Linked DNA regions of Homo sapiens. The protein of the gene in region 1 interacts with the protein of each later gene in a pairwise test. Each region holds a gene or a part of one and is shown on either strand. Other genes may lie near its edges.

What was found.
Region 2: the proteins of SGTB (region 1) and RNASE10 interact in binary tests that used the Homo sapiens proteins (3 or more experiments, as listed by UniProt).
Region 3: the proteins of SGTB (region 1) and ITPRIP interact in binary tests that used the Homo sapiens proteins (3 or more experiments, as listed by UniProt).

What each region holds. Positions count from the first base shown.
Region 1 is NC_000005.10:65,673,468-65,677,216, reverse strand, and holds part of SGTB (small glutamine-rich tetratricopeptide repeat-containing protein beta), read left to right. Parts: intron 1-3,749. UniProt on the Homo sapiens protein: Co-chaperone that binds directly to HSC70 and HSP70 and regulates their ATPase activity.
Region 2 is NC_000014.9:20,508,404-20,512,152, forward strand, and holds part of RNASE10 (inactive ribonuclease-like protein 10 precursor), read left to right. Parts: intron 1-2,063; 5' UTR 2,064-2,068; coding exon 2,069-2,719; 3' UTR 2,720-3,749. UniProt on the Homo sapiens protein: Secreted proximal epididymal protein required for post-testicular sperm maturation and male fertility. May be involved in sperm adhesion to the egg zona pellucida. Does not have ribonuclease activity.
Region 3 is NC_000010.11:104,336,551-104,340,299, reverse strand, and holds the start of ITPRIP (inositol 1,4,5-trisphosphate receptor-interacting protein precursor), read left to right. Parts: upstream 1-1,834; 5' UTR 1,835-2,054; intron 2,055-3,749. UniProt on the Homo sapiens protein: Enhances Ca(2+)-mediated inhibition of inositol 1,4,5-triphosphate receptor (ITPR) Ca(2+) release.

The DNA.
Region 1 (3,749 bases):
TAGTAAAATTTCTAGTTTATGCGCATAGGACTGTTTATACTATTCTTTGATGGTTGTTTGTATTTCTGTGGGGTCAGTGGTAATATCATTTTTGATTGTGTTTGTTTGAATCTTCTCTCTTTTTTCTTCATTAGTATAGCTAGCGGTCTATTTTATTAATTTTATCAAAAAACTAGCTCCTGTATTCATTTTTTTTTTTTTTGAAGGGTTTTCTGTGTCTCTATCTCCTTCAGTTCAGCTCTGATCTTGGTTATTTCTTGTCTTCTGCTAGCTTCGGGGTTTGTTTGCTCTTGTTTCTCTAGTTCTTTTATTTGTGATATTAGGTTGTCAACTGGAGATCTTTCTAGCTTTTTGATTTGGGCATTTAGTGCTATAAATTTCTTTCTTAACAAGAATGAAATTTTAGCTGTGTCTGAGATTCTGGTATGTTGTATCTTTGTTCTCATTCAAAGAAGTTCATTCTTCTCATTCAAGAAGTTCTGCCTTAATTTTATTATTTACCCAAAAGTCATTCAGGAGCAGGTTGTTCAATTTCCATGTAGTTGTGTGGTTTTGAGTGAATTGAGTGCCATGTGGTGATGAGAAGAACGTATATTCTGTTGTTTTTGGGTGGAGAGTTCTGTAGATATCAGGTCCACTTGATCCAGAGCTGAGGTCAGGTTTGAATATCTTTGTTAGTTTTCTGTCTTGATGATCTGTCTACTATTGTCAGCAGAGTGTTAAAGTCTCCCACTATTATTGTGTGGGAGTCTAGTCTCTTTGAAGCTCTCGAAGTACTTGCTTTATGAATCTGGGTGTTCCTGTATTGGGTGCATATATATTTAAGGTAGTTAGCTCTTCTTGTTGAATTGAACCCTTTACCATTATGTAATGCCCTTCTTTGTCTTTTTTTTTTCTCTTGAGACAGAGTCTTGCTCTGTCACCCAGGCTGGAGTACAGTGGCGCAATTTCAGCTCACTGCAACCTCTGCTTCCTTCTTTGTCTTTTTTGATCTTCTTTGGTTTAGAGTCTGTTTTGTCAGAAACTAGGATTGCGACCACTGCTTTTTTCTGTTTTCCATTTGCTTGGTAAATTTTCCTTCATCCCTGTATTTTGAGCCTATGTGTGTCTTTGTATGTATAGTGGGTCTCTTGAATACAGCTCACTGATGGGTCTTGTTTTTTTATCTGGTTTGCCATTCTGTGTCTTTTAATTGGGGCATTTAGCCCATTTACATTTAAGGTTAGTATTGTTATGTGTAAATTTGATCCTGTCATCATGATGCTAGCTGGTTATTTTGCAAACTTATGTGGTTGCTTCACAGTGTCACTGGTCTGTATACTTCAGTGTGTTTTTGTAGTGGCTGGTAACAATTTTTCCTTTCCATATTTAGTGCTTCCTTCAGGAACTCTTGTAAGGCAGGTCTGGTAGTAATGAATTCCCTCGGCATTTGCTTGTCTGAAAAGGATCTTATTTCTCCTTTGCTTATGAAGCTTAGTTTGACCAGATATGAAATTCTGGGTTGGAAATTCTTTTAAGGATGTTGAATATGGGCCCCCAATCTCTTCTGGCTTATAGGGTTTCTGCTGAGAGATCTGCTGTTAGTCTGATGGGCTTCCCTTTGTAGGTGGCCTGGCCTTTCTCTCTGGCTGAATGGCAGGGTTCTTAACGTGTCCATGTACCTCCTGTGGGAAAGCCATGGATGGACTTTAGGAAGCTCATGGATTTTTCCAAAATTATATATAAAAATCTGTGTACATGTGTATGTGTGCATTTTTCCAGGGAGAGCATCATATTTTTCATGAGATTGGCACAGGAATCTGCCAATATATGAAAGGTTAAAAACTACTCTCTTACATAAAAGTGGTCCTAGGAAGATATCTAACATCTGCAGTTTGAGTATTTGGCCATTGTGGTTCCCTAGCTTGCCCCTCAGCATTGTCTGCCTTGTTTTCTATCTTTAGAGTTTATTTGATATAGATAGATAGATATAGATATAGATATCTCATGTGTTTGTCTTCTATTCTTACAAAACAACAAAATAATGTATGGGCCTTTTTGAGAACATACACGCTCTGGTCCAATATGTGGTAACTTTGATTTAGTGGGTTTAGGATGTTACCAGGGCATATCAAGCTCCTGGGGTGACTGTATACTTTGGATGAGAATTATTCTATCCATGATATGCCCTTGGAAGGCAGGAATCAGTTTTTATTCATCTTTTGTTTCCTTCAAAAAATGTGTCTTGCATCCATTAAATCTTCTGTTGAACTGAAATGCACAGATGACTCATTCCCAGTGAGATAAGTCTTTTTAGCAACTGGTAGTTTTTATTTTTCCCTTATCAAATTTCAGCCTTCTTACCATGCTAGCAAATACATGTTTTGTAGATCTTGTGACTTCATTTTTTTTTTTAAGAATGGTTACCCATTCTAGGACTCAGGTTATGGCATTGTAACAAGATGTGAAAAATGGAATTCTTTTAGTTTCAGATTTGGCTTAGGCTCCAAGCTGCTATGTACCAAAATAAGGTGTGAGACCACCATGTAGGAGTTGCAAAAGATGGGGATAAAAAACATGTTTTGTGACTCATAAAAAAGGCCAGGTTGATGGAAATTAAAACATGATTTTTGGAGAGAGCTATTAGAGTTTTAGGGCTCCCTATATGAAGGAATTAGGGAGGCTTGCTCTCATCTCAAGCCCTCACTGAGAAAGGGCTTTTCTGGTACAGAGACTTTCTACCTGATAGTTCAACTGGATAGCCAGTGGCAGAATTAGCTGTGTGGTTTGGGCAGTTACTGTACTGATGAGAGTGGAGCAGAGGTGTTTCCTGTGGACCAAGGTGAGCACACACAATTGTGAGAGAGTGTGTCTGAATATGTTCAAGAGGCTTTCCTGGAAGTGTGACAGGATCCCAACACAGAGAATCTCTGGAGGACTGCCAAGAACCTAAGACTGAAGGGAAAGTCATAGCATCCATCCAGAGGGTAAATTACCCTTTTCAAAGAATAGGTAAGAAATCTCCAGGGCCTAGGGAAAGGAGAAGTGTCTGAAGAACATGAGAAAGTACCCCATAAGAGAACCACAGTAGTTTTTGAATACCTTGCAAACTCAAAAAGCACCAATGCAAAACTAGTAAGATAATACCAGTCATCAAATAAGAACTTTGCTGCTCCTTTCACCTTTCCCTCCATTTAACCCTCAACCTGGAGGGCCACAACTCTTAATCAGCAAGCTGAGGGAAGAGGACTGGAAGTACTACAGGATAAAGAAGCACTATAGGCCTTGGTGTGCTGGCTCACACCTGTAATCCCAGCACTTTGGGAGGCTAAGATGGGCGGAGCACTTGAGGTCAGGAGTTCCAGACCAGCCTGGCCAACCTGGCGAAACCCCGTCTCTACTAAAAATACAAAAATTAGCTGGGCATGGTGGTGCATGCCTGTAATCCCAGCTACTTGGGTGGCTGAGGCAGGAGAATCACTTGACTCCGGGAGGCAGAGGTTGCAGTGAGCTGAGGTCATGCCATTGCACTCCAGCCTGGGTGACAGAGTGAAACTTCATCTCAAAAAAAAAAAATAGCCCTATAGGACAGCGGTCCCCAACCTTTTTGTAACAGGGACTGGTTTCATGGAAGACAGTTTTTCCATGGACCATACCGGGTGTAGGGGGTAGGGGCAGGATGGGGAGAGGAGCGTTAGATTCTCTTGAGGAGCACTCAACCTAGGTCCTTCACATGCGCAGTTCACAATAGGGTTCTTGCTCCTATGAGA
Region 2 (3,749 bases), on another chromosome or scaffold:
CTCACTCCATCCTGCCTGGGATGTGAACCATCCCTTTGTCCAGCGTGTCCATGTTGTAGACACCACCCACCCATTAGCTACTTAGTGGCCAATATCAGATGCACCGTCACAGTATCTCAGCGCCTGTGTTCACATAACCCTTATTTTACCTAGTAATAGCCGCAAAGTGCAAGAATGATGATGCTGGCAATTCAGACACGTCAAAAAGAACCCGTAAAGTGCTCCGTTTGAGTGAAAAGGTGAAAGTGTCTCAACTTAATAAGGAAAGGGGGGAAAAACATGCTGCAATTGGTAAAATCTACAGTAAGAAAGAATCTTTTATCTGCAAATTTTGAACAGTATATTGTTATAATTATTCTATTTTATTAGTTGTTGTTAATATATATTACTAATTTATAAATTAAACTTATGTAGATATGTATGTATAGGAAGAGAACAGTACATATAGGGCCTTAGACATTCACTGGGGTCTTGGAACATATTCCCTGTGGATAAGGGGGACTGCCATAATACTCTTATCTACTACAGAGATCATACTTTTATCAATTGCCTCAATAATGTTCTTCATAGCAATTTTTTTTTTTTCTGGCAGGGAATGTGTCTCTTTGTTAAGGGGATGAGACTGGCCTAGCAAGACAAAGATGCATGCTCAGCTCTCCTTAGGATCTTCTTTTTTTGAGACAGAATCTCACTCCGTCACACAGGCTGTAGTGCAGTGGCACCATCTTGGCCTTCTCACGGGTTCAAGCAATTCTCGTGTCTCAGCTTCCCCAGTGGCTGGGACTACTGGTGCGTGGCACCATGCCGGCTAATTTTTGTATTTTTAGTAGAGATGGGGTTTCACCATGTTGGCCAGGCTGATCTTGAACTCCTACCTCAGGTGATCCACCTGCCTTGGCCTCCCAAAGTGCTGGGATTATAGGCAGAAGCCACCAAGCCTGGCCTCCTTAGAATCTTTATGAGTAGGGGAACCCCCAGCAGGTCAATTGTTTGATTTTCTTTGGTTTCATTCTTATTCCATTTCTTCCCTGAGAGTATAAACCTAATCAGCAAGACTACTCAGATGTTAAGAGATCTTTAATAGTAGAAGGAATCTGGCTTAACAAGATGTAGCTTTAGCAGGGGCCTGAGATGTAAAGTTGGACATCTTCCCTCCAGCCTCAGCTTAGGAGTAAGAATGGACTGTGGTACTTTTTCTATTCCTTTTTATCTTTTGTGGGGAAGGTGGGTAACAAGAAGAGTAATAGATATTTGAATAAGCAAAAGCAAATTTGGGTTAAAAATAAAGAGATGGTCTTCTGTGGTAAATCTAGTCCTATATTGACAATAAGGCTTTCTACAAGAATTTCCCTAAAGGAGAGTGTGACACTGTACACGCTTGTCTTCTCAATCATTCTCTGGTTATTTGGCACAAATTTCTGTTTAAGAATCAATTGATGTCAGGGGCATGGTGGCTCACACTTGTAATCCCAGCACTTTGGCCAAAGTGGGATGATTAATTGACCGCAGGAGTTTGAGACCAGCCTGGGCAACATAGCGAGACTCGTCTCAAAAAAAAAAAAAAAAAGAGCTGGGCATGGTAGTGTGTGCCTGTGATCCCAGCTACTTGGGAGGCTGAAGCAGAAGGATCACTTGACCCTGGGAGATTGAGGCTTCAGTGAGCTATGATGGTGCCACTGTACTCCAATCTGGGTGACAGAGCAAGATCCTGTCTCAAAAGGAAAAAAAAAAAAAAAAGAATCAATTGATGTCAACTTTCCTCACTGATTTCCCATATGTAAATTACCTCAGAACTGCTTCCCTTGGTCATCTCCCTACTCTTCAAGAGAAGAAACATGAGGAAACTTCCACATTTTATTACACAGCAACAGGGAATGTGGTAGGGAGGAACAAGAGAAATGGGAATGGAAAGAGAAATCGCTGCCTTGAAGAGGGTAGAGTAATGTGCAGAAGACACAGGAGACCCCAGATACAATGCTGTAGGGCTTAGTGAGATTACAGTCTCTACTAGAGCCAATTTTGATCTCAAAGTCACGTTCTTCCATTTCCCGCTTCCTCTCCAGGCAAAATGAAGCTGAATCTGGTGCAGATCTTTTTCATGTTGCTGATGCTGCTGCTGGGCCTGGGGATGGGCCTGGGGTTGGGACTTCATATGGCTACAGCAGTCTTGGAGGAGAGTGATCAACCGCTCAATGAATTTTGGTCCAGTGACTCACAGGACAAAGCTGAGGCCACTGAGGAGGGAGACGGCACCCAAACCACAGAAACGCTGGTGCTTAGCAACAAAGAAGTGGTGCAACCTGGCTGGCCAGAAGATCCCATCCTCGGTGAAGATGAGGTTGGGGGTAACAAGATGCTCAGAGCCTCAGCTCTCTTTCAGAGCAACAAAGACTATCTTAGGCTTGACCAGACAGATAGAGAATGCAATGATATGATGGCACACAAGATGAAGGAGCCCAGTCAGAGTTGCATAGCCCAGTATGCATTCATCCATGAGGATCTAAACACAGTCAAAGCTGTCTGTAACAGTCCTGTCATTGCCTGTGAGCTCAAGGGGGGAAAATGTCACAAAAGCTCCCGACCTTTTGATTTGACATTGTGCGAGCTGTCCCAACCAGACCAGGTCACTCCTAACTGCAATTACCTAACTTCTGTTATAAAAAAGCACATTATTATAACCTGTAATGACATGAAGCGCCAGTTACCAACTGGACAATGAAGCAACTCATCATCTTTTTTCTCTTCACCTTCTCCTGTTCCTCTTCCTTTTTTACTTCTTCTTTCTCATATAGTTCTCCTGATCTTAGGTATCATGCAGATGGAATTCTTCCTTGCCCTATGGGTCACCCAACTTGCATTTTGTTCCTAGGATTAGAGATGGTAGGATAAGGTGATGATGCCTAGTTTCTCTAAGCTCTCTGCCTCTCCTTTCCCTTACCCTGGAAAGGAGTAAGTGAAGAGCTGCTGTAGTCCGTACTGTAGTCCTGGCCATCCATTTGTTTCCTGCTCTGCTCTGAGTTTGTCTCTGGATGTGGACTGGAAGAGTTTAGTGTATCCTTTACCCATGTTCTTCCCTGCTGCCCACCCTGAGCCTCTACAACAATCACATAAGACTCTTGGGTTTTGCACAACTGCACTTCTCTATTGCGGATGAAGTTAAAGTGATTCTATCTGTAATGGCTTCTGGAGGACCATGTGGAACAGGCTTCCTTTTCCGAGCTTGGAAAAATTTAGGGCCTAGGTATGGGGGTCTGCTGGGGAGGTGGTGTGGTGCTGTAGAGCAAGATAGAAGATGGGCTGGAGCAAGAATAGAACTCTTTTTTCTTGACCCTTCACTGCCCTTTTCTCTTTCTTCCCACCTTTTACTAGCAGCCTCCTTGCTTGGCTTCTTGTTTTCATCTCTTACCTTTGCTTTTGTCCTTTGCTTCTTTTTCTCCTTACTTTCTCTGTTCTCCTTTTCCTCTTCTTTTTCTTTTTGGGCCCGCTCTTCTCTTTATCTGGATCCTTTTAGAGATTCAGTCAGCCGATACTGATCACTTATGCTATGTTGGTCCTATAGTCAGTCATGCAAGCAGATGTTCGTCCTATAGTCAGAGTCTGGCACAGGGAGTTAGAGGGGGGTGGGTCAAGAGAATGAGAAAAAGAGAGAGGAAAAGAGAGAAAGAGAAAGAGAGAGTGAGAAATCTTTTTTGAATTATGTCCAGAAGCAGAATAGTGCTCATATGAGGTGCCCAGTAGATGTGGGATGA
Region 3 (3,749 bases), on another chromosome or scaffold:
GCATATCAAAGAGCATATCACGTTCTGGGAAGCACAGGTTCCAAGAACTGCAAGGAGTTTTGTGTGGGACACAGAGTGAGATATGAGGCTGGTGAGATAAGCAGAGGCCAGTTCATGAACGACTTACAAGCCAGGTAGAAGGGTGGACCTTAGAACAGACAGGAACCAATCAGAACACAGAAGGTGAAATCATCAGGTTAAAAGCAAAACAAATATAATAAATATTCCTTATATAAATATACATGGCTGGTTAGAAATTGCTGAAACAACTTTGCAGACGGGATGACAATCCCAGAGGGCATTCAAGCACTAACCTTGGCATTCCAGCACAACGCTGAACTCTTAGCCCAAGGATGACAAAGCTCAGCCCAGCGCTCTTACTTCACAGAAATTTCCCCCACCTGCTTTGCGGAGGGTGTGAGTAACCCACCGGACCAACTTCTAGACATTTTGGAAATACAGCTCTTTCAAGACCGTTTCCCCAGATCGCCCCCACCACCTCCAACACACATACTGGCCCCCAAAATTCTGCCATAACCTCTTACGTAAGGAAAGAATTTGAGCAGCAGTAGAAACTTGAAAACAAAAGTACCCTGGGCCAAGGGCCAGGGAGTCTATTTTTAGAACATTTTCTCATTGCCTGTTTATCTTTCAGACTCAGCCAAAAAGTCTTCCAGGCGAGTGTTAAAGGAAAAGACGAAAAAAAGGTGATCTAAGACCAAATAGCAGTAGCAATGGTGATCATTTTGGACACTGTGTTCCAATTTCCCCAATGTGCCTTCACTGGCATTTGGTGCCCCCAAAGCCGCTTAATGGAGAATTCATTCAAACCCTGCTCTGCCTTTTGTACTGATGGTAGGATTTGGGCAGGTCAAAGGGAAGACAATAGAAGTTATGGATTTCATAAACTATTAAGCTCGACCAGAACGCTGCTGCTGCTCCTCCAGGCCTCAGTTCTCTCGTTTCTAACATAGGGGTAGTAACACTTGATCTACCGTCACAACAGTAACCAGAAACTACCGCGCCTGTCCCGTACAGTATCCGGTCACTGTTCTCCTTTGTGCCCGGTTAATCCCGGAGAAAAGCAACCATGCATTTGATTATCATAAAAGTCGGGCGCGGTGGCTCACGCCTGTAATCCCAGGCGCTTCGGAAGGCCGAGAAGGGAGTTCGAGACCAGCCTGACCAACATGGAGAAACACCTTCTCTACTAAAAATACAAAATTAGCCGGGCGTGGTGGCACATGCCTGTAATCCCAGCTACTCGGGAGGCTGAGGCAGGAGAATCGCTCGAACCCGGGAGGCGGAGGTTGCGGTGAGCCGAGATAGCGCCACCATTGCACTCCAGCCTGGGCAACAAGAGCGAAACTCCTTCTCAAAAAAAAAAAAAAACGGTAGTAAGCTATTTTAATCCTTTCAAGCTGCAAAAGAGAAAAAGGCTGGCGTTTTGTCTAGAGTTATATTTTCCTCCAAGAGACTAAATAGGTGGCCCCAGGAATTCCGCCACTTGTAAAACGCGCCGCAGAAAACTCTCCCCGACTGGTAAGGACTTAACCCCTTCCGCTCCGCGGCTTAGGACGACTTTTAAGGGCGTCCTCCCCGCGCCCCTGTCCACTCGCTCCAGTTTACTCCACTGGCCTGATTCCGTCTCTCCCAGTCACTCTCCAGTTCTGCCGTGCCGGGGAAGTTTCTGGGGGCTCACTGGGAAGGTCTTCCCGGCGGATCCTGGGCCCAACCACCGAAACCCACACGGTCCTCCTTAAGGAGCTTCCGGGGCCGCGGGTAGAGGCGGGTGTTTTGTTCTTATAAGGAGGAAAAAGTTTTTGTGACATCCAGGAAATGAGTAACTCTGAAGTTCAGTAGAGCCGGCCGCTGCAGGCCAGAAGGTGGGAGCCAGCGGGGGCATCGCCGCCCGCGCCCCTCTAAGTGCCGGGCCGCAAGCTCCACCGCAGCCGCCTGCAAGCAGCGGCGCCTCGGCCCTCGACCTGCGCGCAAAGCCTGTGCTGGAGCCGTCCTCCCGCGGCGGGGACCGGGACCGGGGACCCAAGCCAATCGTAAGTCCCAGGGCAGCCTAGTGTGCTGAAGGAAGAAGGGCGCGATGGAGAGCGCGAGCTCGGAGGAGCTGTGTCGGAGATGGCTGCCGACAGAGGGGGCGCAGGAGGGTGTGGGGAGCGCGGGCGCCTGCTCCTCCCGGGTGGGGGCTGACTTTGGAGACCCCCTTCCCTTAAAGCGCGCGTGCCCAGGCGGGCGTATTGTCTCCTCGCGGTCCCGCATCCTGTTCCCGCCGCGTCGGGGGATGCGTCCCGGGCGCTCGCTCCAGCCAGGGCTGCGGGCAGCTCCTCCTCGAGGCGCGCGCAGCCTCGGAGCCCAGAGCGGGACCACATTTTTGTTCCTAGTGGCCAGGTGACCCGTTACTTCTCACATCTGAGCAGAGCGCTACCGAAGAAAGAAAAGCCGGTTCGCCCTGCTCATTTGCTGCCCCCTTTTCCCCTTCCCCTTCCCTCCCTTCCTGTAAGGGAGGAATAGGCGTGAAGTTTTTTTTTCTCGGTTCATGGTAGTGAAGTTATGGGGCTGCTTCAGGCCGGATAAAATCCCCGCCGCTTCCTCTTTCGGGACTATTAGTGGGCCAGACCTCACGCTGTGCAGACTTGCTCTTGGGCTGCAAATAACTCTCTGCCCCTTCACCCCTAACCCCACCCTCAACCCCATCCCTGTGACTTTGCCATTCTGGCCGCCTGGTGAAGACTCCCGGGGCGGGACTCCCCATCCAAAACGCTTTCTCTTAAAAAAAGAAAAAGAAAAAGAAAAAAAAAGCCACCGACCAGGAAGGTAAAATATTTTACGGAACCAGGCAGGGGCCTCATTTTGCCTTTTGCCCCTCTGCTGGTATGAGAAAAGCACCCTTTCACAACTAGTAGAGTACCAGATACTGGTCTCATTTCACAAACAGTAGAGTACCAGATATTGGTCGCAATCTGGACTCTGGTCTTTTGGATCTAAATCGGGGTCGCGGTCTATTTTCTTGTTCTTTTTTTGGATATGACCCAGTGCTCTTGCCTTTTACAAACCGAGTCTATCTGACTGCCAGCTAAAGTTCATCTGTGGTTGGTGCAGTTTTAGGCCCAGGTGAGCCCTGAAAATAGAGTATCAGAAAAGTGGATTACTGTCTTTCCTCCTTACGAAAACAGAATAGGCTGTGTTTTTGAGTCCTCCCTCCAGCCCTCGTGCCTAAGTGGCTTTCATTGTTTGCTAATTCCCTGTATGTTGCGGCTGCTCTGGGCCATTCTGCCTTCGGATTTTCTCCACTTGTGGGTAACCATGAAGTAGTTATACTGACTCTCTGCTCTCCCTGGGTGCATTCTTCTCATGCTCAGTAAATCTACATTTTACGTAAGATAAAGTAAGCATGTGAAATTATAGCTATCTGTTTGGCAACAAAAGGAATGCAGTTTTGTTTTCGGTTTTGTTTTTTGCATGACTGAGTTCCCAAGCTTAACTTTTCCCTTTGGCATCCTGAGCTTGGGGTCCTAAGGTTGTATTTTCCTTTCACAGCTATCAGCAGAGACAGGTAGCCATCAACAGTTAGGAAAGAGTCTGGGCTGGGTGGCTGCCTGTCTTCCCAGAGCTTTGGGAGGCTGAGGTGGGAGGATTGCTTGAACCCAGGAGTTCCAGGCTTAGAGCTGGGATCACTTGGTTGGGATCACTTGGTTGGAGCTAGGATCGTGCCACTGCACTCCATCCGGGTGACA